7 linked regions of the Homo sapiens genome follow. The protein of the gene in region 5 purifies or fractionates together with the protein of the main gene of each other region. This does not show direct contact. Each region holds a gene or a part of one and is shown on either strand. Other genes may lie near its edges. The genes, in order: SFXN1, SCCPDH, OCIAD2, CRAT, SLC25A20, ALDH2 and LETM1.

The links.
Region 1: the proteins of SLC25A20 (region 5) and SFXN1 fractionate together in Homo sapiens (co-fractionation; one large-scale study listed by BioGRID). This does not show direct contact.
Region 2: the proteins of SLC25A20 (region 5) and SCCPDH fractionate together in Homo sapiens (co-fractionation; one large-scale study listed by BioGRID). This does not show direct contact.
Region 3: the proteins of SLC25A20 (region 5) and OCIAD2 fractionate together in Homo sapiens (co-fractionation; one large-scale study listed by BioGRID). This does not show direct contact.
Region 4: the proteins of SLC25A20 (region 5) and CRAT fractionate together in Homo sapiens (co-fractionation; one large-scale study listed by BioGRID). This does not show direct contact.
Region 6: the proteins of SLC25A20 (region 5) and ALDH2 fractionate together in Homo sapiens (co-fractionation; one large-scale study listed by BioGRID). This does not show direct contact.
Region 7: the proteins of SLC25A20 (region 5) and LETM1 fractionate together in Homo sapiens (co-fractionation; one large-scale study listed by BioGRID). This does not show direct contact.

What each region holds. Positions count from the first base shown.
Region 1 is NC_000005.10:175,506,060-175,509,559, forward strand, and holds part of SFXN1 (sideroflexin-1), read left to right. Parts: intron 1-2,972; coding exon 2,973-3,143; intron 3,144-3,500. UniProt on the Homo sapiens protein: Amino acid transporter importing serine, an essential substrate of the mitochondrial branch of the one-carbon pathway, into mitochondria.
Region 2 is NC_000001.11:246,733,932-246,738,178, reverse strand, and holds part of SCCPDH (saccharopine dehydrogenase-like oxidoreductase), read right to left. Parts: intron 2,205-4,247; coding exon 2,124-2,204; intron 1-2,123.
Region 3 is NC_000004.12:48,892,926-48,897,172, reverse strand, and holds part of OCIAD2 (OCIA domain-containing protein 2), read left to right. Parts: intron 1-3,119; coding exon 3,120-3,167; intron 3,168-4,247. UniProt on the Homo sapiens protein: Has an essential role in the assembly of mitochondrial respiratory chain complex III. Is also required for STAT3 activation and plays a role in cell migration.
Region 4 is NC_000009.12:129,093,630-129,097,626, reverse strand, and holds the end of CRAT (carnitine O-acetyltransferase), read left to right. Parts: intron 1-314; coding exon 315-377; intron 378-1,491; coding exon 1,492-1,629; intron 1,630-2,014; coding exon 2,015-2,230; 3' UTR 2,231-2,833; downstream 2,834-3,997. UniProt on the Homo sapiens protein: Catalyzes the reversible transfer of acyl groups from carnitine to coenzyme A (CoA) and regulates the acyl-CoA/CoA ratio. Also plays a crucial role in the transport of fatty acids for beta-oxidation.
Region 5 is NC_000003.12:48,860,428-48,864,674, forward strand, and holds part of SLC25A20 (mitochondrial carnitine/acylcarnitine carrier protein), read right to left. Parts: intron 2,233-4,247; coding exon 2,115-2,232; intron 1-2,114. UniProt on the Homo sapiens protein: Mediates the electroneutral exchange of acylcarnitines (O-acyl-(R)-carnitine or L-acylcarnitine) of different acyl chain lengths (ranging from O-acetyl-(R)-carnitine to long-chain O-acyl-(R)-carnitines) with free carnitine ((R)-carnitine or L-carnitine) across the mitochondrial inner membrane, via a ping-pong mechanism.
Region 6 is NC_000012.12:111,814,771-111,818,567, reverse strand, and holds the end of ALDH2 (aldehyde dehydrogenase, mitochondrial isoform 1 precursor), read right to left. Parts: 3' UTR 1,036-3,797; downstream 1-1,035. UniProt on the Homo sapiens protein: Required for clearance of cellular formaldehyde, a cytotoxic and carcinogenic metabolite that induces DNA damage.
Region 7 is NC_000004.12:1,817,734-1,821,980, forward strand, and holds part of LETM1 (mitochondrial proton/calcium exchanger protein precursor), read right to left. Parts: intron 1,740-4,247; coding exon 1,605-1,739; intron 1-1,604. UniProt on the Homo sapiens protein: Plays an important role in maintenance of mitochondrial morphology and in mediating either calcium or potassium/proton antiport. Mediates proton-dependent calcium efflux from mitochondrion.

The sequences.
Region 1 (3,500 bases), on a different chromosome or scaffold from region 5:
TGCCCGTCTCGGCCTCCCAAAGTGCTGGGATTACAGGCGTAAGCCATTGTGCTCGGTCCACATTTTCATATTAAGATAAATTCCAAATTCATTAAAAACCTAAATGACAAAAAGAAAACAACTATTCTGAGAATGCTAGAAATATCGGTGAACATTTGTATAATCTTTCTAGATAGAAACTTTATTCCTACCTGATTACATAAAAATAATAATTTTCAGGACAGCAGATAACACAACCAAAAAAATAAAAATTGGGGTTAATCGCAGTGTATAAAATACGCGTACAAATTACATAAATAACAATGATGCTGCTGTGGATGGTAATTTTTTAAAAAAAGACTAGTCAAGTAGAGAAAAAAGATAGAAGACATAGCCAAAGTTTTAATGTTGTACATAGCTTTTGTTCCAGCATATTTACTCATTTCTTTCAGAATAATCTTGGATGTGGGGATAGATTTATGTATGAGGGTTTATTTACTTCCTCATCCTTTACAAATGGAGTAAAATTAGAAGCAATTAATATGCCCAACACTAGGAGATTGGTATATATTACAGTATCTTATAATCATGTAGGAGAATACTATACAGTACTTAAAAAGTTGGTGTATTCATTTCTTTTTTTTTTGAGACAGAGTCTCACTCTGTTGCCCAGGCTGGAGTGCAGTAGCACAATCTCAGCTTACTGCAACCTCTGCCCCCCAGGTTCAAGTGATTCTCCTGCCTCAGCCTCCTGAGCAGCTGGGATTACAGTTGCCTGACACTGCACTGGCTAATTTCTGTATTTTTAGTAGAGACGGGTTTTCACCATGTTGGCCAGTCTGGTCTTGAACTCCTGACCTCGTGATCCACCCACCTTGGCCTCCCAAAGTGCTGGGATTACAGGCGTGAGCCACCATGCCCAGCCTATTAATTTCTTAAGGCTGCCATAACAAATTGCCACCAACTTGAGCCTCACAGTTATGGAGGCTCAAGGTCTGATATCAAGGTGTCAACAGGGCCATGCTCCCTCTAAGAATCCTTCCTTGGGGCTTCCAAGGTTCTAGAGGCTCTAGGAATGTTTTGATGCACCTTGGCTTATGGGTACATTGCTGTCATCTCTGCCTCCTTCATTACTTGGCCTTCTTCTGTGTCTGATTGCACATGGCCTTCCTATAAGGACACCATTCATTGGATTTAGGGACCACTCTAATCCAGTATGCCGTTTGGCATTTGAACTAATTGCATCTGCAAAGATCCCATTTCCAAATAGGGTCACATTCTGAGGTTGCAGGTGAGACATGAATTTTGGGGGAGACACTGTTCAACCCAGTATAGATTATATAGAAGAATATCTGAAGACAGAGAGAAATGTTTACAGTATATTACTGAGTAAAGAAGGTGGTTATAAAGCAGCAGGTCTGGTGTGATGCCTTTAAGTAAACACATCACATTTAGCTTCTAGAGGAGAGACTGAAAATACATGCATGAAAACATTACCAGTGGAGATGAGTAGGTAAAGACTTGAGTGATTTTAATTGCTCTAATGGATTCCTGTTTTTTCTCAATTTTTGACAATGAATACGTGCTTCTTTGATAAAGAGAAGAAGTAAAGAATGAGGCACCTAATTTTTTTTTCATCAAGAGTCTTCTGAGGCTGGGCATGGTGGCCCACGCCTGTAATCCAGCCCTTTGGAGGCCATGGCAGGCAGATCGCCTAAGCCCAAGAGTTCAGAACCAGCCTGGGCAACATGGTGAAATCCTGTGTCTACAAAAAATGCAAAAAAATTAACCAGGCATGGTGGCGCATGCCTATAGTCCTAGCTACTCAGGAAACTGAGGTGGGAGGATCACTTGAGCTCAGCAGTTCAAGGCTGCGGTGAGCTGAGATCATGCCATTGCACTCCAGCCTGGGTGACAGAGTGAGACCCTGTCTTTAAAAAAAAAAAAAAAAAAATTCTTCCTGAACTAGCTTTTCATTCTATAGGTATAAAAATGAATTAATATCCTTGATTACCATAACTTTTGTCTAATTGTTTAAAGTATTTTAGAGTTTACAAATTCAAAATACATTATAAAATATGTCACTTGAAGAATATTTCAAAATTGAATGCTTTCCTATTCCCTATATATAATTTCTTTTCTGGCTTTTCCAAACTACAGATAATTTGAGATGAATAGATTTGATTTTTTTTTTTTTTTTTTTTTTTTTTGAGAGGGTCTTTCTCTGCCCAGGCTGGAGTACAGTGGTATGATGACTGCTCACTGCAGCCTCAACCTCCCGGGCTCAAGTGATCCTCTTGCCTCAGCCTCCCAGGTAGCTGGGACCACAGGCATATGCCACAATGCCTGACTAGTTTTTATTTATTTTTATTTTTTTATAGAGACAGAGTCTCACCATGTTGCTAAGGCTGGTTTTGAACTCCTGGGCTCAAGCAATCCTCCTGCCTCAGCCTCCCAAAGTGCTGAGATTACAGGCATAAGCCACCGCGCCCAGCCTGAAATGTTCATTTTAAGTGTTTATTGTCCTGTATGTTTTGAAATTTTTACTGACTATATGTAACAAATTTGTCACTCCATCTAGGCACAAGTGTTTTAGGTGAGCATAAATTTTTTTTTTTGAGACAGAGTCTCGCTTTGTCACCAGGCTGGAGTGCAATGGTGCGATCTTGGCTCACTGTAACCTCTGCCTCCCAGATTCAAGCAATTCTCTTGCCTTAGCCTCCTGAGTAGCTGGGATTACAGGCGGGTGCCACCGCACCCGGCTAATTTTTGTATCTTTAGTAGAGACGGGTTTCACCATCTTGGCCAGGATGATCTCTATCTCTTGACCTTGTGATCCACCTGCCTCAGCCTCCCAAAGTGCTGGGATTACAGACGTAAGCCACCACACCCAGCCAGAGCATAAACTTTTAAAACCTTGTAGCCACTTGTCTCTAGGACACTGGGGAGATATTTGAAATGAGCAATTGCCATATTATTTGTTGTTTTCTTAGGCAAGGAATTGTTCCTCCTGGTCTTACAGAAAATGAATTGTGGAGAGCAAAGTACATCTATGATTCAGCTTTTCATCCTGACACTGGTGAGAAGATGATTTTGATAGGAAGAATGTCAGCCCAGGTTCCCATGAACATGACCATCACAGGTTGTATGATGACGTTTTACAGGTATGTTATGAATATGTAGCAACAGTGTGTTTACCATTACAGAAGCTCAAAGTATATTTTTGTATGTAAATAATTTTGTTGAAATAAGTATTATTTCATAAGTATATGAAGTGACAAACAAGGTAATTAGCTTGATTGAATCATTCCGTAATGTACTTATGAATCAAAACATCATGTTGAACTCCTTTAGTATATACAATAAAAAATAAAATTGAAGACAATAAAAAACAAAAAATGGGGTATTATTGATGTAAAAGAAAAGAAGTCATTTCACTTTTAGTTCCATTATGTTTGAATGTTGCTACTCTGGGACTCTTTTTTTTTTTAACCCTTCCCCTCTGCTAAATAGCATCTTCT
Region 2 (4,247 bases), on a different chromosome or scaffold from region 5:
TGTTGCCCAGGCTGGAGTGCAGTGGCGCAATCTTGGCTTACTGCAACCTCCAACTCCTGGGTTCAAGTGATTCTCATGCCTCAGCCTTCTGAGTAGCTGGGATTGCAGACGTGCACCACCATGCTTGGCTGATTTTTGTATTTTTAGTAGAGATGGGGTTTCGCCATGTTGGCCAGGCTGGCCTCAAACTCCTGGCCTCAAGTGATCCACCCACTTTGGCTTCCCAGAGTGCTGAGATTACAGGTATGAGCCAACGTGCCCAACTCCTTATTAGGTTTTGATATTATGGCTGGGCGTGGTGGCTCATGCCTGTAATCCCAGCATTCTGGGAGGCCGATGCAGGTGGATCACTTGAGGCCAGGAGTTCAAGACCAAGCTGGCCAACACGGTGAAACCCTGTCACTACTAAAAATACAAAAATTAGTCAGGTGTGGTGGTGTGCACCTGTACCCCCAGCTACTCAGGAGGTTGAGGCAGGAGAATCGCTTGAACCCAGGTGGCAGAGGTTACAGTGAGCCAAGATCGTAGCACTGCACTCCAGCCTGGGTGAGAGAGAGAGACCCTGTATCAAAAAAAAAGGGGGGGGTTCGATACTACTTTTATGATAGTTTCTAGATGACTTAAAAGCTTTTCACCATTTTCTATGTTCTGGGTTATTTAAAATAACATGGGAATTGTTTTTTGTTTTTGTTTTTTGGAGACAGGGTCTCACTATGTTGCCCAGGCTGGAGTGCAGTGGCATGATCATAGCTCATTGCAGCCTTGACCTCCCAGGCTCAAGTGATATTCCTGTCTCATTCTCCTGAGTAGGTGGGACCACAGGTGTGTGCTACCAACTCCTGGCTAATTTGTTAACTCACCAGCTCAAGTCATCCTCCCACCTAGCCTCCCAAAGTGCTGGGGTAACAGGCGTGAGCCACCTCGCCTGGGCTTTTTTTTTTTTTTAATTTGTTTCCTCCTTTTTGAATCAATTTTTGTAATTTACACTGTCTCAGTATTTTCCAGTATTTTACCAATTGATAAACTGCAAATGCATATTAATATCATATTGGCATGCTGATGATGATAATCAGTAGTTACTACAGAGACACATGAGGTTACCATTTTAAAGGCTGTAGTAGAGCTTAATGCCTGTTAACACATAACTTCCTGTGGTCAGGCAAACCTCAATTGAAGACCTAGTTCTTCTACTTACTAGGTGCATTACTAGGTGCATTACTAGGTGCATTACTGAGTGAGTTACTTAAGCTTCCTAAGCTTTAATTTCCTCATCTACAAAAAATGGAGGAAGATAACTACCCTATAGGTATATTTTTAAAAAGTTACATAAAACACTTAGCACAATGTTGGGCATATGGTAAGCATTCAATAAATGTGAACATTTAAAATGTTTAGGTTGATTTTACACTAGTGAATTTTACCTTTATTTTTCTGTAATGTTATAAAGGTAACTGAATTTTCTTTTTTTTTTTGAGACAGAGTCTCGCTCTCGCTCTGTGGCGCAGGCTGGAGTGCAGTGGAGTGATCTCGGCTCACTGCAAGCTCCACCTCCTAGGTTCACCCCATTCTCCCACCTCAGCCTCCCAAGAAGCTGGGATGACAGGTGCCCGCCACCATGCCCGGCTCACTTTTTGTATTTTTAGTAGACATGGGGTTTCACCGTGTTGGCCAGGATGGTCTCGATCTCCTGACCTCATGATCTGCCCGCCTTGGCCTCCCAAAGTGCTGGGAGTGCAGGTGTGAGCCACCGTGCCCGGCCTAAAGGTACCTGATTTTTAAAAGGGAATTCAAAATGAAAACATGACAGAATTGAGATTCTAAGAATTATGCACAGTCCGCTATTTTAATTGATTCAGTTTAAAGCATGAAGTAGCTATAATAAGCACAGACCTATAAGAAATGATGTTGTAGGGAGGGAAAAAATTCAGAAAACTGAAGCTAAGACCTTACCATCAGCGCTCTCCTTTGAGCTATCAATGGAATACCACACGAATACCATATCTGAATGCTAGAAAGGAGTTGTCGGCTTCTAAATATGTCTGCAAAATTACACTAAATATTTCCACTTCATTAAACCGAAATTTATGTGTTAATTCTACGTTTTTCCTTTTTATTTTTTATACCTGAGGTTCTCCACTGATGTCGATACAACTGGCTCCATTTTCAATACATGCTTTTATTACAGGTTCTCCATAAAACCGATACTAGGGAAACAAAAAGAACAAAGAGGTTATTCTTGCTTGACAAGTTTAAATGAATAAAATGCCATCTAATCCTGGAAGTAAACAGTCCTAGTTATCAAGAAATCAACTGTTAATAAAATAGCCTAAAGATAAATTCAGAAAGTGGCCAGGCACAGTGGCTCACACCTGTAATCCCAGAACTTTGGGAGGCCGAGGCAGGTAGATCACTTGAGGTCAGGAGTTCAAGACCAGCCTGGCCAACATGGTGAAACCCCATCTCGACTAAAAATACAAAAATTAGCCGGGCGTGGTGGCACACACCTGTAATCCCAGCTACTCGGGAGGCTGAGGCAGGAGAATGGTTTGAACCTGGAAGGTGGAGATTACAGTGAGCCAAGATCGTGCCACTGCACTCCAGCCTGGGCGACAGAGTGAGACTCCGTCTCAGAAACAAAAAGATAAACTGAGAAGATACCTGCACAATACCATCTCTCACAGTGTGAATAAATAAAGGCATGATGGAATTACAGAGCAATGTATGCTTACCTCTACCTGAAGACAAAAGGAAAAGTTTCATACAAGTGATTCCCTTGAGTTGAACCCTAAAGAACAAATAAAAATTTTCCAGGAAAAAGAAAAATCCAGATACAGGAAAAAGTAAATGCAGAGGTTAAGAAAAAGGAGCTGTTCCTGTTGCTTGAAGCAGGAATCAAATTCACTTGAGTAGGAAGTAGAAAGAGATGGGTCTGAAAAGGCAGGCTACGGCCACATCAGGAAGGACCACATGTGCCATGCTAACAAGTTTCAACTTTATCCTTTCTAGTTTACTTGGCTTTCCAGAAGAATTTTAAACAGGATAGTGGTATAAGACTTATAGCACAGACGATATACTAAAGATGAGACATACAATACTAAAAAGGTGGAAATGACTGGATTTCCTGACTAGCTGGGCTGGACATGGGGGCCAAGAACCAGTGGTATTATTGGTCAAAATTAAAAACAAACCAACAGGAAGAAGAGAGTTTGCAAAGGATAAGTTTGATACTGAACAGAGCAGATATTCTGAGCCTGTATGATATTAGATTTCCCATATTATCTGTTATTCAAACTCAAGGAATTAAAATACAAATTTTCATATGTAAAAGCTAATACATCAGAATTCAGTCCCATTTCCAAAGAAGCATGACAAATCTTTTCCTTTGTGAAGAAGTAGATTAGAAGCACAAACTCCTCTGCTTTATTCATTCCTGGCAGCAAAAGATGGAACAAGGAAATCGTTTCTTTCTTCCAGCCTTTGAGGAACAAGGGACACTTAAAAGACACAATCGACCTTTACAAATAGGTCAGATGGGCTGCCCTCTTACCTAACTCCAAGACCTCACACCTCTTACTAAGAATGGCGGATAACACTGGAATTACAGGACTGGGAGAAGTGTGTGAAATTCGAGTTCCTACCCTCCCATTAACAAACCACATGAAATTAATGAAGAACTCTACTTCTGAGGCAGTATGGTATCATGGAACAAAGGATTTCAAGGCAGTAAGACCCAAGTTCACACCTGGAATCCATCACCTACTAACTATATGAATTTACTTATAAATCACTTAAATTGCCTACCAAATGAATAAAACACACATTTTAAACATATTTAAATAGAACTAAAGTTGAGATTAAAACAGAAGTTGAAGCTCCATATGCTTTCTGCACCCAGTGGATTATCCTGGTTGATCCTTAGGGTTTGCACACATCCATTTTAAAACTCATTTGGAGCTTTCTCGGCCTTGTTCTTAAGTTATTTCACCCCCAAATTTCTCAAGTTGGCCATGAGTCCACCTGCTTTAGAATCACCTGGGTTGCATGCTGGTCACTCACTCCCACTCCAGACCCCCAGAATCAGGCTTTCTGAGGTAGACTCCAGTAACTTGCATTGTAAATAAGCCTCACAGGTGATTCTTGTGTACTTCAAAGATGGAGAATCACTGCCCCAGACATTCTCCCAGGAAATCTCACCTACTCTCCCAACTTCAATAAAATCTGTGCTGTGACCTCCAACCTCTATGTCT
Region 3 (4,247 bases), on a different chromosome or scaffold from region 5:
CCCAAGGCCTCTGTATATGGTTAGACAGATGGTTCCCTGTACAAATAAGGATGTTGCAGGGAGGAGGTGGGGGGAGCTAAAATCCACCCTAAGCTGTGTCCACCACACCATTTCTTTTGGCAAGAGGCTGCATCTGCCTGAGGAGGGCACCCTGTCTCCTCCATACAAGAGACCGTAAGGACCAGCAGCTGCCTTGCATCTCACCACATAACCTCTCCCTGCCTCTTAGCGTTTTCCTGTTTTCCTCTCTGTTCTTCCTTCTTCATCTCCTCCCTGTCTCCACCTGACCAGAGAACCCAGAGACATTCCTTAGTCCACAGGTGGCAAGAAGGCACCTTATCTTGTTTAAGCCCATTTTATCAAACACTGCTGATTAACAGGATTTTGCTATTTTTTTTTTTAAATGAGACGAGGTCTTGCTATGTTGCCCAAGCTGTCCTCAAACTGTTGGGCTCAAGCAATCCTCGCCACTAGACCTCCTGAGTACCTGGGATTATAGGCACGTGCCACCATGCCTGGCTTCTGATTATCAGGACTTTATGGGGATCTTGGGGTTTTGTTTTGTTGGTTTTTGGTTCGTTTGTTTGTTTTTGAGACAGGGTCTCACCCTCATCCAGTGCAGTGATATAATGGCTCCCTGCAGTCTCAACCTCCTGGGCTCGAGTGACGCTCCCATCTCAGCTTCCCAAGTAGCTGGGTCTATAGACACATGCCACCACACCCAGCTAATTTTTTTTTTAATTTTTGCAGAGACAGTGTCTCACTATATTGCCTAGGCTGGTCTCGAACTCCTGAGCTCTTGTGATCCTCCCACCTCAGCCTCCCAAAGTGCTGGGATTACAGGCATGAGCCATCACACCCAGCCTTGATTACCAGGATCTTAAAAGGAACATTTGTACCAGTAAATATGAGGGAAGAAGTCCTAGTTCTTTTCTGGGTCTCAAAAACCACATGTCACATATCTAGGAGAATCCCACTTTGACCAATATCATTCTTGTCCATAAAGGTCATATATTAAATATGATTTTATTTTTATAATTTGAAGATAGCATTTTTCAGATCATTTTTGACACATAAAAATATTGGGGCTGGGACATCTATGGGGATTATGGGTTTTTTGTTTGTCTATTTGTTTGTTTTTTAGATGGAGTCTCACTCTGTCGCTCCGGCTGGAGTGCAGTGGTGTGATCTCGGCTCACTACAACCTCCACTTGCTGGGTTCAAGCAATTCTCCTGCCTCAGCCTCCCTAGTAGCTGGGATTGCAGGCCTGTGCTACCACATCCAGCAAATTTTTGTATTTTTAGTAGAGACAGGGTTTCACCATGTTGGCCAGGCTGGTCTCAAACTCCTAACCTCAAGTGATCTGCCCACCTCAAGTGATCTGCCCATCTCAGCCTCCCAAAGTGCTGAGATTGCAGGCAAGAGCCACCGCACCCAGCCAGGATTATGTTTTATAAGTATTAAAATACTCCAAATCTACTGCTTGTGGTGTGAATGTCTCCTTCAAAACTCAGGGTGAAATTTAACTGCCATTGTAACAGTATCAAGAGGTGGGGCCTTTAAGAGGTTAAGTTATGAGGGCTCCACCCTCGTGAATTGATTACTACCATTATCATGGGAGTGAGTTCCTTATAAAAAGGATGTGTTCAGCCTCTCCTCTTGCTCTCTGTTTCATGCACTTCCTTGCCATGGGATAACCCTCACTACATGCCAGCTCTGTGCTCTTGGACTTCTCAGCCTCCAGAACTGTGAGCCAAGTGAACTTCTGTTCTTTATAAATTATCCAGCGTATGGTATTCTGTTATAGCAGCAGAAAACAGACTAAGACATCTACCATTTTTTGCATCTATGCTAATACATTTTTTTCAGAGTTTGATATCAGTTTTCTATAACTTCTCTAACAAATTACCACAGAGTGACTTAAAACAACACAAATGTATTATCTTACAGTCCTTGGAAATCAGAATGCTGAAATGGGTCTCACTGGGCTAAAATCAAGGCGTCGCCCCAGCTGTGTTCTTCTGGAGGCTCTTGGGCTTCCTTTTCCTTTCTCGTTTCTAGAACCATGCATATTTCTTAACCGGTGGCCCCTTCCTATGACTGTAAAGTCAGCAACATTGAGCCAAGTTCTTCTGTTGCTGCCATCTCTCTGCCTGTCACCAGTTTCCTCTTCCACACTGAAGGATGACATTGGGTACACCTTGATCATCTCTCTCTTTTAAAGTCATCTGATTAGCAACATTAGTTCCATTTTCTACCTTAATCCCCCTTTTGGGACATAATATATTCACCTTTTCCAGGAATTCGGATGTGGGTATCTCTAAAAGGCCATTATTCTAACTACCATGAGTTGTACTGTTTGCATTGTAAAATAATGATATACACTGTGAATCTCCAAATGGAAACTTTCTATGTTAAGTTACTTAAAAAGAAAAGAGGGTGCACATGTACCCTAGAACTTAAAGTATAATTTTAAAAAAAAGAGGATGATGACTAATCTCTTTGAACACTGTTGTTAGCCCTACCTTTGCTTGATGTCTTTGAATCAGTCTTGAACTGTCTTTTTCATATTATTTTTCTACACATTACAGCTAATATTTGTAATTTGCCTAAAATGACTATCTGGGAGTTCAATTCAACTGAGAATTGAATCATAACTCCTTTAAGATCTTTTTTTTTGAGATGGAGTCTCGCTCTGTCACCCAGGCTGGAGTGCATCGGTGCCATCTCAGCTCACTGCAACCTCCGCCTCCTGGGTTCAAGCGATCCTCCTGCCTCAGCCTCCTGAGTATCTGGGATTACAGGCACCCACCATCATGCCTGGCTAAGTTTTGTATTTTTTTAGTGGAGACGGGGTTTCACCATGTTGGCCAAGCTGGTTTCGAACTCCTGACCTCAGGTGATCTGCCCGCCTCGGCCTCCAAAGTGCTGGATTACAGGCGTAAGTGACTGCGCCCAGCCAAGATCATCTTTTTAAAGTCAGAATATGTATACATTTAAGAAATTTTATGTCTTAAATTTTGGAGGTTTCTTTATACTTTAAGAATAACTTATAATTTATAACTTATAATTTAATTTATGAAATGAAATAATAATGTTTTTCTTTATTACTCCTTAGGTTATTTGGCAGCTAATTCTAGATTTGGATCATTGCCCAAAGTTGCACGTAAGTCATAGAAATAAAAAAGCAAGCCAAGTGTGGTGGCTCACATCTGTAATCCCAGCACTTTGGGAGGCTGAGGTGGGTAGATTGCTTGAGTCCAGGAGTTCGAGACCAGCCTGGGCAGCATGGTGAAACCTTGTATCTATTTTTTTAAAAAGTAATAAATAAATAAAAACTTTGAAAAAAAGACATTACTAGCAACTGGAGATACGAATGTCCAGCCTAACTAAACTGCCTGTATTGACTTTTGGAAAAATCAGCCCCTATTTTCTGCCACTCTGCATTTCTTAGTTCACTCAACACTTTCTGATATACAGCTTAGCAGTTGGGACTTCTTCTTAGACCATCCTTAAAGCATGGACTAAGAGGGACTGGCAGGATATATAATGAGATTATCAATAGCAGAGCCTCTGCATGATAGATCATTTATGGATTTTTATTTTCTTCTTTTGCCCTGGCCAGTCTTTTCAAAATGTTTTCTACGATGGATATAAAAAATGAGTAATTTTTAAGAATCAGGGGATTTCTAATAATAGAGTAACCACAAACTTGGGGTTTCATCTTCCTTCACCTGGTATCAATAGATCTTTTATGTACAAAAAGGACACATTTTAGTTGATAGTCTGAAACCACATTCATTCCTAGCAGGAGGAACAGATTCGAGATCTCTTCCATAGGAGGGTCCCTCTCCTTTGTGACCTCTCTCCTATAGGCAAGATGGACTGAAGCTCTCCACTACTCCAAGGCCATAAGGAAGATTAGGGGCATTTCTACCCAGTGATTTGGAAGCTACCTATAGCCACAACCCAGCCACCTTCCCCTGCCCCCGTGGCCTCAACCGTTTGCTTGACAGGTGGGCCCTCTCTGGCCATCTGTCTCCAGGACAGCACTGTGGCTTGCTCTGTCCTGGCCCTTCCACCACCAGTGCAAAGTTGAGATGGGGAAGTCTCCAGTTCCCAATCCTGTTCTTTTTAAATAGAGACTTCATTCTCAGAGTCTTCATTCATTGATTTAGCGTGGTCCTTTTAATTTTAAAATTACCAGCGTTGATTTTTAAAGCTCTAGAAAATAACTAATGGAGAA
Region 4 (3,997 bases), on a different chromosome or scaffold from region 5:
AGCAATCCTCCTGCCTCAGCCTCCCAAGTAGCTGGGACTACAGGTGCCTGCCACCATGCCCGGCTAATTTTTGTATTTTTAGTAGAAACGGGATTTCACCATGTTGGCCAGGCTGGTCTCAAACTCCTGACCTCAAGGGATCCACCTGCCTCGGCCTCCCAAAGTGCTGGGATTACAGGCGTGAGCCACCGCTCCCAGCCCCAATATTTCCTCTTAAAGAGCTCAGAATCTAGTGCTGGGTGGGGGTGGGCTACTGAGGTGGGCCAGAAGAGAAGGGACAGTGCTTCAGCTCCCTCTGACCCTCACCACTCTAGGAGCACCAGAAGGTGGAGCTGCTGCGGAAGGCCGTGCAGGCCCACCGAGGCTACACCGACCGGGTAAGTGAGCCCGCTTGTGCCTACTCACTTGTCCCTTAGTGTCAGCCATCTGTCTGTCCCTCTGACTGTCCGTCCCTGCAGCCAATGGCTGCCAACCCTTTGCTAGGACCACATCTCCCCCAACCTGGGAGCACCTGGAGCCAGGCTGAATAGCCCCCAACTTTTTCTTTTTTTTTTTTTTTGAGATGGAGTCTTGCTCTGTCGCCCAGGCTGGAGTGCAGTGGTGTGATTTAGGCTCACTGCAACCTCCGCCTCCCAGGTTCAAGCAATTCTCCTGCCTCAGCCTCCCAAGTAGCTGGGATTACAGGCACCCACCACCACACCTGGCTAATTTTTCCATTTTTAGTAGAAACAGGGTTTCACCATGTTGACAGGCTGGTCTCAAACTCCTGACCTCAGGTGATCCACCCACCTCAGGCTCCCAAAGTGCTGGGATTATAGGCGTGAGCCACCGTGCCCGGCCAAATATCCCCATTTTAAAGTTGGAGAAACCCAGCCTGGGCCCAGTAACTGCCTTGGTTCCAGGTTCCAGGGCTGGCCTGGGCCCTAGATGTTGGGTCACACTCTCTCCCTGATGCTAGGTATCTCTCCCTGACGCTAGGTATACATGGTCCAGCAGACAGCCAGTTTCCTGCCCTCCAGCAGCTTGGGCTGCAGTCAGGGAGGTGGCTGTCTGGATGCGTGTCCTGGCTCTGTCTCTGAGCACCTGTGTGTCCAGGCTCTGACCGTGCTACATGCACACGTCCATTTAGAGCTCACCGCCACCCTGCGAGGGGAGTGTAGGACTCACCCCTCTTTACAGATGAAGACACTACAGTTCCAGAACCTAAGCAACCTGCCAAGGCCCTGCAGCCAGGATGGGGCTAGGTCACCCAGCTCCAGGGCCCTGCCCTACAACCCTGCACTTTCCTGCCTCCCTGGGCAAATCCCCGCCCCTCCCTGAGCCTTGGTTTCCCCATCTGTGAAACGAAGGCTCTCTCTGGCCAGAATACTCTGGTCTTGTGGTTTTGAGTGGCCAGTGCCTGCGAAGGGTGGCGCTGCCACAGGCTGAAGAGGGCAGGGATACCCCGGGGGTCCACAGCCCCTGCTCCTGACAGCTCTCCCACCCCAACAGGCCATCCGCGGGGAGGCCTTTGATCGACACCTGCTGGGCCTGAAGCTGCAGGCCATCGAGGACCTGGTGAGCATGCCCGACATCTTCATGGACACCTCCTACGCCATCGCCATGCACTTCCACCTCTCCACCAGCCAGGTGGGCCACTGCCCCAGGTGCCCCGGGGGCTGGAGGCAGAGAACCCACTGGTAGTTTGATGTGGCCTACACAGGCCCCACTGACCCATTGCCAACACAGCTGAGTTCCAGAGGAGGAGCTGGGGGCAGGGGCCTCTCTGCAGCCCAGGCAGGCTGAGAAGGGGTCAGTGCTCCTCATGGGAGAATCAGCTTCGCTGACTCACTGGTCAGGTATAAAGGAACATTTGATTCGTGCCAGCCTGTAGTGGTTGCTGGGATATAGCAGGGGACAGACCATGATCCCTGCCCACAAGGGGCCTGCAGTCTTGGCGGAAGCACAGGCAGCCTGGGAAGTGCTGGGGGCGTCAAGGTAGGGGAGCTGAGAGCTTTCATCCTGCCGTCCCCAGGTCCCTGCCAAGACAGACTGTGTCATGTTCTTCGGGCCCGTGGTCCCCGACGGCTACGGTGTCTGCTATAACCCCATGGAGGCCCACATCAACTTCTCCCTGTCGGCCTACAACAGCTGCGCGGAGACCAACGCCGCCCGCCTGGCGCATTACCTGGAGAAGGCGCTCCTGGACATGCGTGCCCTGCTGCAGAGCCACCCCCGGGCCAAGCTCTGAGCCCCTAGGACTCAGGCCTGCCAATGCCACAGCCAAGCCCACCCTGGGATGGGCCACCCACCAGGGCTCAGCTCCTTGGTTCCCTCTTCCTTGGTTCCCTCTTCCCTGGTCCCCCCAAATCTACTGAGCCACGGACCGCATCCTCCAGGGGGCCTGCAGGCCCCAGCCAAGTGCCTTCCGTGGGTCATCCCAGCACCTGCCAGGGCCCGACCTGGGGCTGAGTGCAGAGGCTGAGCAGGACGTTAGGCCCGGGCCCCTGGCACGTCCTCCACCGGTGCCTCCTCTGGGGAAGGGAACCAGCCCTCCAGAGCAGGAGACTGGCAAGAGCTCTTTGTCTCACCAGCTCAGCCCCGGCCACTCCCTGCCAACTCCATGACCAGGCCACCATCTGTACCCTGCTTCCCAAACTCCCAGGACCTGGAGACAGGATTGTCTGGGGCCGAGGGGCCAGGGTGTGAGGTTTCACCTCCGTTGCGGCTGTGCTCCTGTGGATAACATTGCTAGCGAGCCGCCTCTGGTTCCACTCAGCTTGGTTCCTGCCCCCGCCCTGCTGTATGATATTAATGTGGAAGGTCATCAATAAAGGGGAATTGTGTTGGTGAAGAGGTGTTTCAGCTGAGAGGCAGGCAGGGTGGGGGCAGGCACCTGGCCTTGCCCTCTTCAGCTTTCCCTGGGCCTCGGAGCTGGTGTCCAAGCAGCTGGTGGGCCTGAGGGCTTTGGCCCAGGAGCCAAGGTCCAGCTGTGACCTTGGGGCACTGGGCCCAGAACCATACCAGAGCCAGGGCTGCGTCCTTCACCAGCAGCTTCCCACCTACCTCTGGCTTGGGCCTTCCCAAGTCCCATGGGTTGTGGGTAGGGGCAACTCTCCCAGGGGACTGTGGGGCCCAGCAGGCCCAGGTCTGGTGGGCTGATGAATGTTGCTAATACCCAGGGGCCCAGGGTGTCATTCTACTTCCCCCAACTGAGCCCAGCAAAAGTAGGAGTACAGCAGCAGGCTCAGCTTGCCCCAGGCCCAGCCGCTGCCAGGACAGACACCTTCGGGGGTGGGCAGGTGCGATCAGAGCAGAACCACATACCTGCCCATAGCCCCGTGTCCATGGCTGAGGCAGGGCATCCTGGCAAAACCAAGCGTGCAGTTTGTGGAGAGGGGAGAGTCTCCCATTAGGACACTGGCCTGTGAGGAAGGCCTGTGTGAAACCACAAGGGCGGATGCCGGGGTGGGCTGGGGGAGGTTGGCTGGCCTGTGAGTGAAGGGCTCTGTGACCTGACTAAGCTGGGACAGTCATCCGAGAGTGGGGCCTTTGGTTTTCTCCGTTTGTCAGATGAGGAAGCAGGCTTAGCGAGGTTAAGGTCACCGGGACGCTAAATGGCAGAGCAGGATTCACAGAGGCCACACTTGTCTCCTCTAGGCCGGGGCTCCAAGAAGCCCCTCCCTAGAGCCAGGTCCCCAGCCCCAGGCCACATCCACCTAGGTGTCCCGCAGCAGGGGGTGGAGAAAGGGATGCTATGGGTGGAAACCGGCCCAGCCTCAGGACCACAAGGAAGCGGGTAAAGAGGGAGGCTGGGCTGAGCCTGAGCTCTAATCAGGCGCAGGGACCTGCCAGGCCTGACCATTGGTGGTGTACTCAGCAGGAGAGGGCAGCCACTTGCCCAGTGCCCCAAGGGGACAGGAGGTGTAGCCCAGACAATGGAGGAAATGGATGGAGGCAGAGAAAGGGATGCCTCTGGGGGGAACACGCAGGCCTGGAAGAGAATGTCACCTGGACC
Region 5 (4,247 bases):
CATGGTGAAACCCTGTCTCTACCAAAAATTAGCCGGGCATGGTGGTGCATGCCTGTAGTCCCAGCTACTCAGGAGACTGAGGCAGGAGAATCGCTTGAATCCAGGAGGTGGAGGTTGCAGTAAGCTGAGATCGAGTCACTGCACTCCAGCCTGGTGACAGAGCAAGACTCCATCTCAAAAAAAAATAATAATAATACAAAAAATACAAAAATTAGCCCGGCCTGGTGGCACATGCCTGTAATCCCAGCTATTCAGGAGGCTGAGGCACAGGAATCACTCGAACCCAGAAGGTGGAGGTTGCAGTAAGCCAAGATCACACTAATGCACTCCTGGCTGGGCAACAGAGCAAGACTCTGTCTCAAAAAAAAAAGAAAAAGAATATAGTATTATTATTATTATTACTTTACTTTTTTTTTTTTTTTTTGAGACGGAGTCTCGCTCTCTCGCCCAGGCTGGAGTGCAATGGTGCAATCTCGGCTCACTGCAACCTCTGCCTCCTGGGTTCAAGCAATTCTCCTGCCTCAGCCTCCTGAGTAGCTGGGATGCATGCGCCACCACGCCCGGCTAATTTTTGTATTTTTAGTAGAGATGGGGTTTCACCATATTGGTCAGGCTGGTCTTGAACTCCTGACCTCGTGATCCGCCCGCCTCGGCCTCCCAAAGTGCTGGGATTACAGGGGTGAGCCACCACGCCCAGCTATTATTATTTTAATAGAGACAGGGTATCACTATTTTACCCAGGCTGGTCTCAAACTCCTGGGCTCAAGTGATCCTCTCAACTCAGCCTCCCAAAGTGCTGAGATTACAAGTGTGAGCCACCATACCCGGCCCCCACAGATTTCTTGAATGTAGAAAAGCCAAGCTTGGCACTAGACCCTTCAGGGATTCTTGAGAAGTTCCTTAGCAGCCACATCCTATTTGCAACAATCACTTTGCAGCTATGGGATGCTGCTCTGGGCCAAGCACTGGTGTAAGTGAGTACAAACACACATGATATAATTTCATTAAAGTTCCCTCAGCTGGGCTTAGTGGCTCACGCCTATAATCCTAGCACTTTGGGAGACCAAGGCAGGTGGATCATCTGAGGTCAGGAGTTCGAGACCAGCCTGGCCAACATAGTGAAACCCTATCTCTGCTAAAAGTACAAAAATTAGCCAGGCATGGTGGCACACACCTGTAACCCCAGCTACTCAGGAGGCTGAGGCAGGAGAGTCACTTGAACCCAGGAAGTGGAGGTTGCAGTGAGCTGAGAATGCACCACTGCATTCCAGCCTGGGTGACAGAGCAAGACTCTGTCTCAAAAAATAATAATAATAAGGCCGGGTGCGGTGGCTCACACCAGTAATCCCGGCACCTTGGGAGGCCGAGGCAGGTGCATCACCTGAGGTCAGGAGTTTGAGACCAGCCCGGCCAACATGGTGAAACCCCATCTCTACTAAAAATACAAAAAAATAGCCAGACATGGTGGCATGTGCTTGTAATCCCAGCTACTTGGGAGGCTGAGGGAGGAGAATTGCTTGAACCTGGGAGGCAGAGGTTGCAGTAAGCCAAGACTGTGCCATTGCACTCCAGCCTGGGCAACAGGAGTGAAACTCCATCTCAAAAAATAAAATAAAAATAAGTAAAAAAATAAATAAGGTTTTCTCTCAGTGTGAAAGTCCATGTGGGCAAGTGACATGCCCACAGTTATAAGCACAGTTGTTGTATCTGGCCTTCCTCTAAGCTGCCAGCTCAGGACAAGAGTGAGACTGTCTCTGCCTTTCCTACTGCCACTATAACAGGACATACTTCTCAAAACCAGGGAGATCACCACTGTCCCCAAGTCACACTTTCTTCCCACTCCTCCCTCCAGAGATGATTTCTATCTACTTGCCACTCCCCTCCAACTGTGATGCCATGACTTCTACCCCTGCAGACACCTGGGAAAGATGGAAGGTCCCCTCATCCTAATCTACGTCCATGCTGGCCAGGGGGAGATGCTTACTGCCAGTATTGTCAGAGATGTGACATGCATGGTGCCAAGGCTAATCTGGCAATCCAGGCAAGACCTTCTGCAGCAGACCCACCTCAGGTGACCTCCCCAGGTGACCTCAAGTGGAGGCCTGAAAGGTTACCTCGCATAAGGGTAAGCACAGTCCCTTTGTAGATGCCTCGGATCCCAAACTCCTGGTACAGCTTCTTTGCACAGTCCAAGGTACCAGTGTACTTGCTTTCTCCTGAAGAAGCCTGAATCTGGGAGGGAGGAGAGGATCATTAAGTCAGAAACATCAGAGTCACAGACCCAGCAGGTTACAGGAGACTACAAAGTAAGTATGGCCATTATGTGTTACAGCAATAAAAGACTTCACTGTCAAATTGATAAGTATCTGGAATGTGTGATCTTGGGGCAGGTACTATGAAATAAGGCTAGGTGAAAATATCAGAAAACATTCACATTGACTAGAAATAAAACCAACAGAAAATTTGAAAAACAAGTTGAGGAGGCCGGGTGCAGTGGCTCATGCCTATAATCCCAGCACTTTGGGAGGCCGAGGCAGGCAGGTCGCCTGAGGTCAGGAGTTTGAAACCAGCCTGGTCAACACGGTGAAACCCTGTCTCTACGAAAAATACAAAAATTAGCTGGGCATGGTGGTGGGCGCCTGTAGTCAGCTGCTCAGGAGGCTGAGGCAGGAGAATCGCCTGAACTTGGGAGGCAGAGGTTGCAGTTAGAAAACATATCGTACCACACTGCACTCCAGCCTGGGCAGCAGAGTGAGACTGTCTCAAAATTTAAAAATAAAAAATAAGTTGAGGAAATCTGTCAAACACAATAAAGCTATTTGGAAGGTCTAAAAAGGAAGCGACAAATACTTTAGTCATTCATTTATTCCTTCAACAAATATCCCCTGAAGACCAACTGCATTCCAAGCCTACCTGGTCATGAGAGTTGGTTAAGAAAAGGTGAACAGAAAATTTCACTCAAAGCTCTAAGTTCCCAGACAGGGGTCCTGTTCAGAGAGGGCTCCTATGCAGAGCCAGAGGAGGGCCAAAGAGAGGCTCCTACCCCGCCCCTGAGAGCCAAGAACCTGGGGGTAGGCAGGGGTAATCCCAGGAAAGATCTGAAAGACAGCTCCATGCAGGATCCACACAGGGATCCCGCTTGTTCAGGACCAAGAGGAGTCAGAACACACAAGAGCATCAACCAAACAATAATTAAAGCTGGAAAGGGAGTTCAGCTTTAACAGTTCCAAAGAGAAACACTTACAAATACATAAACCAAATAGCTTTCTTACATATCAGGATTAACCAGTTAAAAAATAATAGAAAAGGCCGGGCACGGTGGCTCACACCTGTAATCCCAGCACTTTGGGAGGCTGAGGCGGGCAGATCATGAGGTCAGGAGTTTGAGACCAGCCTGACCAACATGGTGAAACCCTGTCTCTACTAAAAATACAAAAATTAGCCAGGCGTGGTGGTACATGCCTGTAATCTCAGCTACTCAGGAGGCTGAGGCAGGAGAATCGCTTGAACCCAGGAGGTGGAGTTTGCAGTGAGCCGAGATCGTGCCACTGCACACCAGCCTGGGAGACAGAGCACAACTCTATCTCAATCAATCAATCAATACAAGAAATGGATCCCATTCAAAATAGCAATAAAAGCCGGGCACGGTGGCTCACGCCTGTAATCCCAGCACTTTGGGAGGCCAAGGCAGGCAGATCACCTGAGGCCAGGAGTTCGAGACCAGCCTGGCCAACATGGTGAGAGCCCCCATCTCTACTAAAAATACAAAACTTAGCTGGGCGTGGTGGCAGATGCCTGTAATCCCAGCTACTCAGGAGGCTGAGGCAGGAAAATGACTTGAACCTGGGAGGCGGAAGTTGTAGTGAGCCGAGATTGCACCACTGCACTCCAGCCTGGGTGACAGAGTAAGACTCTGTCTCAAAAAAAAAAAAAAAAAAAAAAAAAAAAAGCAACAAATATGTGAATTAAGCAATAGGCTTTGTATAAATAAAACTCTAAAATATCTGAGGATTACAAAATAAGAGGTCAATAAAAAGAGTCCTAATTCTAGTTGGGAAAAGTTTTCAATAAGAAAGATTTCTATTTTTCTAAAAATAATAAATGTAAGATAATGTCAATTGAGTATCAATGGTTTTTTTTTTTTTTGGTATAACTTCCCCAAAGTATCCAGACATATGTACCTGGTATGTCTGAGGAACAGAAGGAAGGTCATGTTATCTGAGAATGCTGGAGCCAATTCACAGTGA
Region 6 (3,797 bases), on a different chromosome or scaffold from region 5:
GTGGCCAACTATGGGCCTGGTCCCTCTGGTATGAGCCATGAGCCAGCTGAGCCAGAGTGCAAAGATGGAGAGAAGGCCGACCGGAGTCATGACGACATCAACCCCCATAACCTGGGGGCAACTCAAGAATACCACTCAGGAAGCTGGGAAACTACTGGAGCATCAGAGCCAGGCAAAACACCCTGATTCCATGTTCTTGGCCATGTTAGCCATAATGTCCTGTGTGGTATGTTTTCCCTGTGCAGAGGCAAAAACATTTTGGGCATATGTTCCCAATCCCCTAGTAGTACAACCTATGCTTTGGAGTGACACTCCTCCTGAGATTTATCGTGATCAGCAAGTATGGGCTCCAGGACCCCTAACTCCCCTTAAAATAGAACAGTTAGACTCTCAGAACAATGTCATTAATTATACCACCCCACTAGAAGGACTCCCCTTGTGTATCACTACAAAGACATCGCTTAACTGTAGCTGTCTTATAATTCAAGCTCAAGAATGGTTGAGTCATTATGGAAAAGTCATGTGCCTATTAAGTCTTGGTTCTATTAATGTAACAGGTGTGCTAACCAACCATTCCCGGCCCAATCACCCTAATCGTGCTGACTATATGGAATGGATTCCCTTCGATAGTTACTACCCCCCAAGACATGGACCCAATGTCTTGACCCACTGGCTAGAAAACAATCTATGTTAACTGGAGACATTGTGGATTGGGGACCTAAAGGTCAACTATATGGAAAACATGAAAATCAGAAATCATGGCACAAACTTCGCTGGCATTGGTGGCAAGATTTTAATGCTTCTTCTTTATACCACACCGGGATCTAATCCCAGTCTGCCACCCAGATTGCTTGACATGGAGCAGGCTTTAGCCCGCCTCTTCCTCAGTGGCATTATCTAGGGAGGAAAGGACCAATCCAAGAGATGTTATGGAAGGCAGCACTCCCATTTATGAATGGCGGGATACTATCCAGTGATAGCAATAGTAAGCAACACAGTCTTAATGTTACATTTGTAAAGAATATCACCACTCAATTTATGGTTTGTCTTTTTAATCCTTATGTCTTTTTTGGCAACTAAGAAGGACCAGCTCCAGGTAAACAATATCCAATTGACCTGTAAATCTTGCCAGTTATGTCACTGCATTAATCATAGCACATTGCAAACACATAATGTCTCTACTTTGATAATTTTGGGTCGCATCCCTGGGCTATGGATTCCTGTTAATCTGTCCCAGCCTTGGGCTACCACACCTGCTTTGCACTTCATGAAACATCTTCTAACTCAACTTACTCATTGTGCCCATAGAGCCTTAGGCATGATAATTTTTGCTATTGTTTCCTTGGTCACATTAATAACTTCCGTTGTGATGTCCTCTGTAGCTTTGCATAGTTCTATTCAAACAACTCAGTACATGGAAAACTGGATGCGTATAGCCAACCAAGCATGGCCACTTCAGAATAAAATTAACACTGAGTTACAAACTGAAGTGGCATTGTTGAAATCCACGGCTCTACAGTTAGGAGAACAAGTACAAAGCTTGCAATTGCAACAGCAATTGCACCATCATTTTAATCACACTCATATTTGTGTAACCAACTTAGAATATAACCAAAGTGAGTATCCATGGGACCTTGTGAAAGCCCATTTGCAGGGAGCTTGCACATCCAACATCACCTTTGATATCGGTGAATTACAAAACAAAATTCTTGATTTAAATAAACAAACTCAAGAGTTTCAGCCTTCTTTAGAAGACTAGACCAAATTCCAGCAAGGCCTGGAGAGCCTCAACCCTTGGACCTGTCTAAAGCACCACATTAACATCTTATATGTAGTCCTTGGAATAATGTTGTTTTGTCTCTGTCTTCTGTTCATAGTCTGTAAAATTGGATGGACTGCCAATCAGAAAATGAGAGCTGCCCAGCCTGGCCTTACATTCTTTCAATTAATTCATAAACAGAAAGGGGGAAATGTAGAGAGCTGAATGCCCATGGGTTGTGACCAACTCAGCATTCCACTGAGGCTATATGATCAAACAGCAAACTGTTTATCATAAATGCAGAATGTGGGCAAACTCACTTCTGCTTCAGCCGCCAGAAGGTTCGCTGAGGGCAATCACTCCCTGGCGCCATGCTCTTTGAGGTTATCTACTGAGACATCTAGAGCCTACTGTTCAAAGAATGCAATCTTGTGAGCCTGCTGTGAATCAAGCTGCTGACCGACAACCACCCCCCCTTCTCCCTATCTCCTTTACCCAATAAATACAAAGGGCACTAAAGCTCAGGGCCCTTTTTCACTAGAAGCAAGGAGCCCCCTGACCCCTTCTTCCAAATATACTCTTTGGTCTTTATCTTTATTGCTGTGTTCGTCCCCTTTTGTTCAGTCCAACAGGGATTAGGTCCACGTCACCTTTTAAACAACCAGCTCTTGAGTGAACTCATTACCATGGGGGAGGACACCAAGCCATTCATGAGGGATCCACCCCCATGATCCTAACACCTCACACCTTGCCCCACCTCCAACACTGAAGATTACATTTTAACATGAGATTTTGAGGGGATAAATATCCGTACTATCAGAGAGGTTACTTCAAATGTTCAGGTGCATGACATTTTGATATAGCTTTAAAAATAAGCTATTAGGGCTGTGCCCAGTGTCTCATGCCTGTAATCCTAGCACTTGAGAGGCCAAGCCAGCAGGATGACTTGAGGCCAGGAGTTCGAGACCAGCCTGAGCAACATAGCAAGACTCCATCTCTCTCTCTCTCTCTCAAAAAAAAAAAAAAATATATATATATATGCATGGTAGTGCACGCCTATAATCCCAGCTACTCAGGAGGCTGAGGTGGGAGGATCACTTGAGCCCAGAAGTTCAAGACCAGCCTAAACAACACAGTGAGACCCCATCTCTACAAAAAATAAGCCATTAGACTCTCAGGTTATTATTTTTATTATTGCCAGGTATCCTCACCCTTACTCCTGGCATGGAAGATACAGTAGGAGTCATAGATGGCTGTAGGTCAGGTGCTGTCTCATAAGTAAGCCATATCGCCAGGCATCACATCTATGCTCTCACTCTAATATATGTATATTGTAACCCCTTCTATGTGCCAAGGCAGGAGGATCACTTCAAGCCAGGAGCTGAAGACCAGCCTGAGCTACATAGTGAAACCCTGACTCTCCAAAAATAATTAGCTGACTGTGGTGGCACATGCTTGTAGTACCAGCTATTTGGGAGGCTGAGGCAGAAGAATCACCTGAGCCTAGGAGGTAGAGGCTGCAGTGAGCTATGATCGCACCACTGCACTCCAGCCTGGACGACGGAGTTAGACCCTGTCATTAAAAAATATAAAAAATGAAAATATTGTTAAGAAGCTCTTGAGAAGGCTCCAAGTACAGTTCCTGGCATGTAGTGGGTGCACAGTTAATACTTCTTGGGGCCACAGGATTGGGCATCAGATTTACATTTCACTGAAACTTTCTATACCATCTGCATCTATTTCCTTTTGAAAAATGTAAATAAAATCAATACAAATGAACAAATGTCAGCTCTGTTTTATCCTTCACAGAATAAGCCAAATGAGAGTTGGAAGTGACTGCAGAGATTGTGAGGAAATGGAAGCTCAGAAGTTGTGTGGTTTGTCCAAGTTCCCCTGACCAGCTCTGGGACCCTGTTTTTTTCAGTTGAGGTGAAATTCACATAACATAGCATTTACTTTTTTTTTTTTTTTTTTGAGACAGAGTCTCTCTGTGTCACCCATGGAGTGCAGTGGCACAATCTTGGCTAACCGCAACCTC
Region 7 (4,247 bases), on a different chromosome or scaffold from region 5:
TTAAAGAAAAATTAAGTGAACTAATTAATCAAGGAAATTAAGTGTCTTTGTTTTTTGAGATAGGGTCTTGCTCTGTCACCCAGACTGGAGTAAAGTGGCATGATCTCAGCTCACTGCAGCCTCCAACTCCCAGCCTCCCACTCCCAAGCAATCCTCCTGCCTCAGTCTCTGGAGTAGCTGGGAGTACAGGCACACAACATCATGCCTGGCTAATTTTTGTATTTTTTGCAGAAATGGTGTTTCACCATGTTGCCCAGGCCGGTCTCAAACTCCTGAGCTCAAGTGATCCTCCTGCCTTGACCTCCCAAAGTGCTGGGATTACAGGCCTGAGCCACCAGTGCCCAGCCTTAAGTGTCTTTTTAAATTCCAAGTTGTTTTTTTCCCACGAGTAAACACCATGAGGAAGAATGGGGAAGGCGAGGGGAGGGGAGGGAAGGAACAGGCTGAGCTGGTGATAAGCACCTCACATCCAGTGGAGAACCCACATGGCATGAGGGCTGTCATAAATCTAGAAATGGCCAATTATTTTTGCCAATTGAAAAATCAGTTATCATTCCCAACAGAGCTATGAAAACAGTTTTTAAAAAATCGTATTAGGGGCCGGGCACAGTGGCTCATGTTTGTAATCCCAGCACTTTGGGAGGCTGAGGCGGGTGGATCATGAGGTCAGGAGTTCGAGACCAGCCTGGTCAACATGGTGAAACCCTGTCTCTACTAAAAATACAAAAAATTAGCCAGGCATGGTGGCACATGCCTGTAGTCCCAGCTACTCAGGAGGCTGAGGCAGAAGAATCATTTGAACCCAGGAGGCGGAAGTTGCAGTGAGTCGAGATCACGCCACTGCACTCCAGCCTGGGCGACAGAGCTAGACTTCGTCTCAAAAAAAGAAAAAAAGAAAGAAAGAAAGAAAAAAAATCGTTATTAGGAAGTAATATTTACAAAAAAAGGGAAACAAACCACCATGGAAGAAAAGAAAAAAGCCACTTTCACGTAATCATGAATAAGATCTCGTCAAGTGACCAAACTCTTCATGAGACACCTTCCCATGTTTAGAAACTAAAAGATGTGGCCAGGCACGGTGGCCACGCCTGTAATCCCAGCACTTTGAGAGGGCGAGGCAGGTCGGTCACCTGGGGCCAGGAGTTCGAGATGAGCCTGGTCAACATGGTGAAACCCCGTCTCTACTAAAAATACAAAAAATTGAGCTGGGCATGGTGGCACATGTTTACAGTCTCATCCACTCGGGAGGCTGAGGCACAAGAATTGCTTGAACCCAGGAGGTGGAGGTTGCAATGAGCTGAAATTGTGCCACTGCACTCTGGCCTGGGCAACAGAGCAAGACCTTCTTACAAAAAAAAAAAAAAAAAGGTGCACACACATCTGTGGCCAGAACGGCACACAGCCACATTACAGAGGATTGGTCCAGCCGGAATGGCTGTGGAAAGGTTACTGAATAAGGTTTATTTATAACGTGCTTTCCTCTCCAAATACTCTTTGGCCAGCTTATCAAGTATCTGACGGAAGTATTATGTATACTTTTGGGGCCAGTACAGCGATTTTACTCTTCTTGCAGTCTCAGAGTCCAGGGAGCAAATCCCACCCACCTCGCTGTAGTCCTGCACATCCTCCTTCAGCAGCTCCAGCTCCTCCTTCTCCTTGGTGAGTGACTTCTTCTGCTCCTGCAGCTTAGAGCAGGCATCGCTGAGGATGTCGATTTCCTCCTTCGTGATCTCTTCCTCCTGGGATAAAAATGGGCAAACAACAAAGCCTGAGCCAAGGGAAAGAACTGGCCTGTTCCCAAGTGACCAGCTGCTCTGTTCATATTATACGGGCAGCCCAGGGCAAGAGTCTCACTGGACAGTCATTGGTAACAAGAGACCCGCGGGGTTCAGGTTCACTGCTGCGCTGGCTGCTGCACGCAGTCACTGTCTGCCCTCATATGCCAAACCCCATTTGTTTAAAGCGCGTCATCTATGAATTGACACGTGTACTGTGAAACTTCACTACAGTCAAAGAGTCACCTCCAAATGCATCTTTGTGCCCCCACTGGGTCCCGCCACCGACCCCCAGGCAACCTCAGGTCCTGCCACTGCAGACTCGGGTGCACTTTCTAGCATCTTAGATAGACGGATCATCCAGCAAGCACTCTTTTTGTCTGACTTCTCTCACTCACTTATTTTGAGATTTGCCCCTGTGGTCGTGTGTTTCTTGTCTTGTTTTTTGAGACAGGGTCTCACTCTGTTGCCCAGGCTGGAGGGCAGTGGTGCAATCATGGCTTGCTGCAGGCTTGATCTCCCAAGCTCAAGCAATCTCCTGCCTCAGCCTCCCCAGGAGCTGGGACTACAGGCACACACTGACATATCTGTCCAACTTTTTATTTTTTGTAAAGACGGCGTCTCACTATGTTGCCCAGGCTGGTCTCAAACTCCTGGACTCAGACGATCCTCCCACCTCGGCTTCCCACAGTGCTGATATCACAGGTGTGGGCCCCGCGCCCAGCCTCTCTGTTTGGTTTTTCTTTCCCTCAGCAACATTTTACAGTACTCCGTGGACAGCACTTGCATATCTTTTTCCAAATTTATCCCTAAGTAGTTCATTTTGGGGGGTGCCATACTGTTCAAACCTTCTCTGACTACTCATTACCATAGTGAAGCACAATTGATTGTTCACACCATTTGTGAATAAAGAGTTTTCCTTTTTCCTTTCTGATCTATATGGTTTTGTTTTCTGTATTCAACTGCCCTGACTGAAACCCCCAAGCTGATGCTGAGCTCAGAGTGAGGACAGACAACCTCATCAGCGTCTCACCACTGAGGGTGACGGCAGCTGGAGGTGTTTCTGCAGATGCTTTTGATTGGGCTGAGAAAGCTGCCTGCATGTGCAGGACATCTGCATATCAGGAACAGATACTGGGTTCTGCCACAGGCTCTTTCTGCAGCTACCAAGATAAACATTCCCAGCTTTTCTAATTTAGTCTGTTAATATGGAAATTACATTTTAAAAATTTTGGCCAGGCACAGTGGCTCAAGCCTGTAAACCCAGCACTTTGGGAGGTCGAGGTGGGAGGATCACTTGAGGTCAGGAGTTCGAGACCAGCCTGGCCAACATGGTGAAACCCCATCTCTACTAAAAATACAACAATTAGCTGGGTGTGGTGGTGGGCACCTATAATCCCAGCTACTCGGGAGGCTGAGGCAGGAGAATCACTTGAGCCTGGGAGGTCAAGTCTTCAGTGAGCCAAGGTCATGTCTGCACTGCAGACTGGGCAACAGAGTGAGATCCCACCTCAAAAGAAAAAAAATTCAAGCCAATTTGCATTTTTTGGACAAATCCCATGTGATCATGATTCTTTTTACAGAATAGTTCTATTTGATTTGCTAAAAAGTGAAATTTTTTTTTTTTTTTTTTGAGACAGAGTCTCACTCTGTCACCCACTGCAAGCTCTGCCTCCCAGGTTCACACCATTCTCCTGTTTCAGCCTCCTGAGTAGCTGGGACTACAGGTGCATGCCACCATGTCTGGCTAATTTTTTGTATTTTTAGTAGAAATGGGGTTTCACCATGTTAGCCAGGATGGTCTCGATCTCCTGACCCCGTGATCCGCCCACCTCGGCCTCCCAAAATGCTGGGATTACAGGCGTGAGCCACTGCGCCTGGCCAAATTTTTTTTTTATGGCTGGGTGTGGTGGCTCACACCTGTAATCCTAGCACTTTGGGAGGCTGAGGCGGGAAGATCACTTGAGGTCAGGGGTTTGAGACCAGCCTGGCTAACATGGTGAAACCCCCTGTCTACTAAAAATACAAAAATTTGCTGGGTCTGGTGGTGCACGCCTGTACTCCCAGATATTGGGAGGCTGAGGCAGAAGAGTTGCTTGAACCTGGGAGGCTGAGACTGCACTGAGCCGAGATGGCGCCACTGCACTTCAGCCCGCGAGTTCAAGATGGAAGGTACCAGGAGGCGCCCCAGGTAGGCAGCACAGGCGCCTGGAGGCTGCACCTCACAGGCTCGCATGGGGAGTCTGAAGATGCTCCAAGCCCAGATCACCCCACAGGAGGTGACAGCAGGTTGGGCCTGTGGAGGAGGCTCTACCTTGAGGGGCCACATTGGCTTCCACACCCCTTCACTGTCTGGGCAAGCTGGCAAAGGGCCCTGAAACCTGCCGACTGGCATCTCTACCTGCCACACTGTGGGCCAGGGTGCTAAGTTCACGGCAGCGTCAGCTGCTGTGCACCCAGGCACAGTGCGGA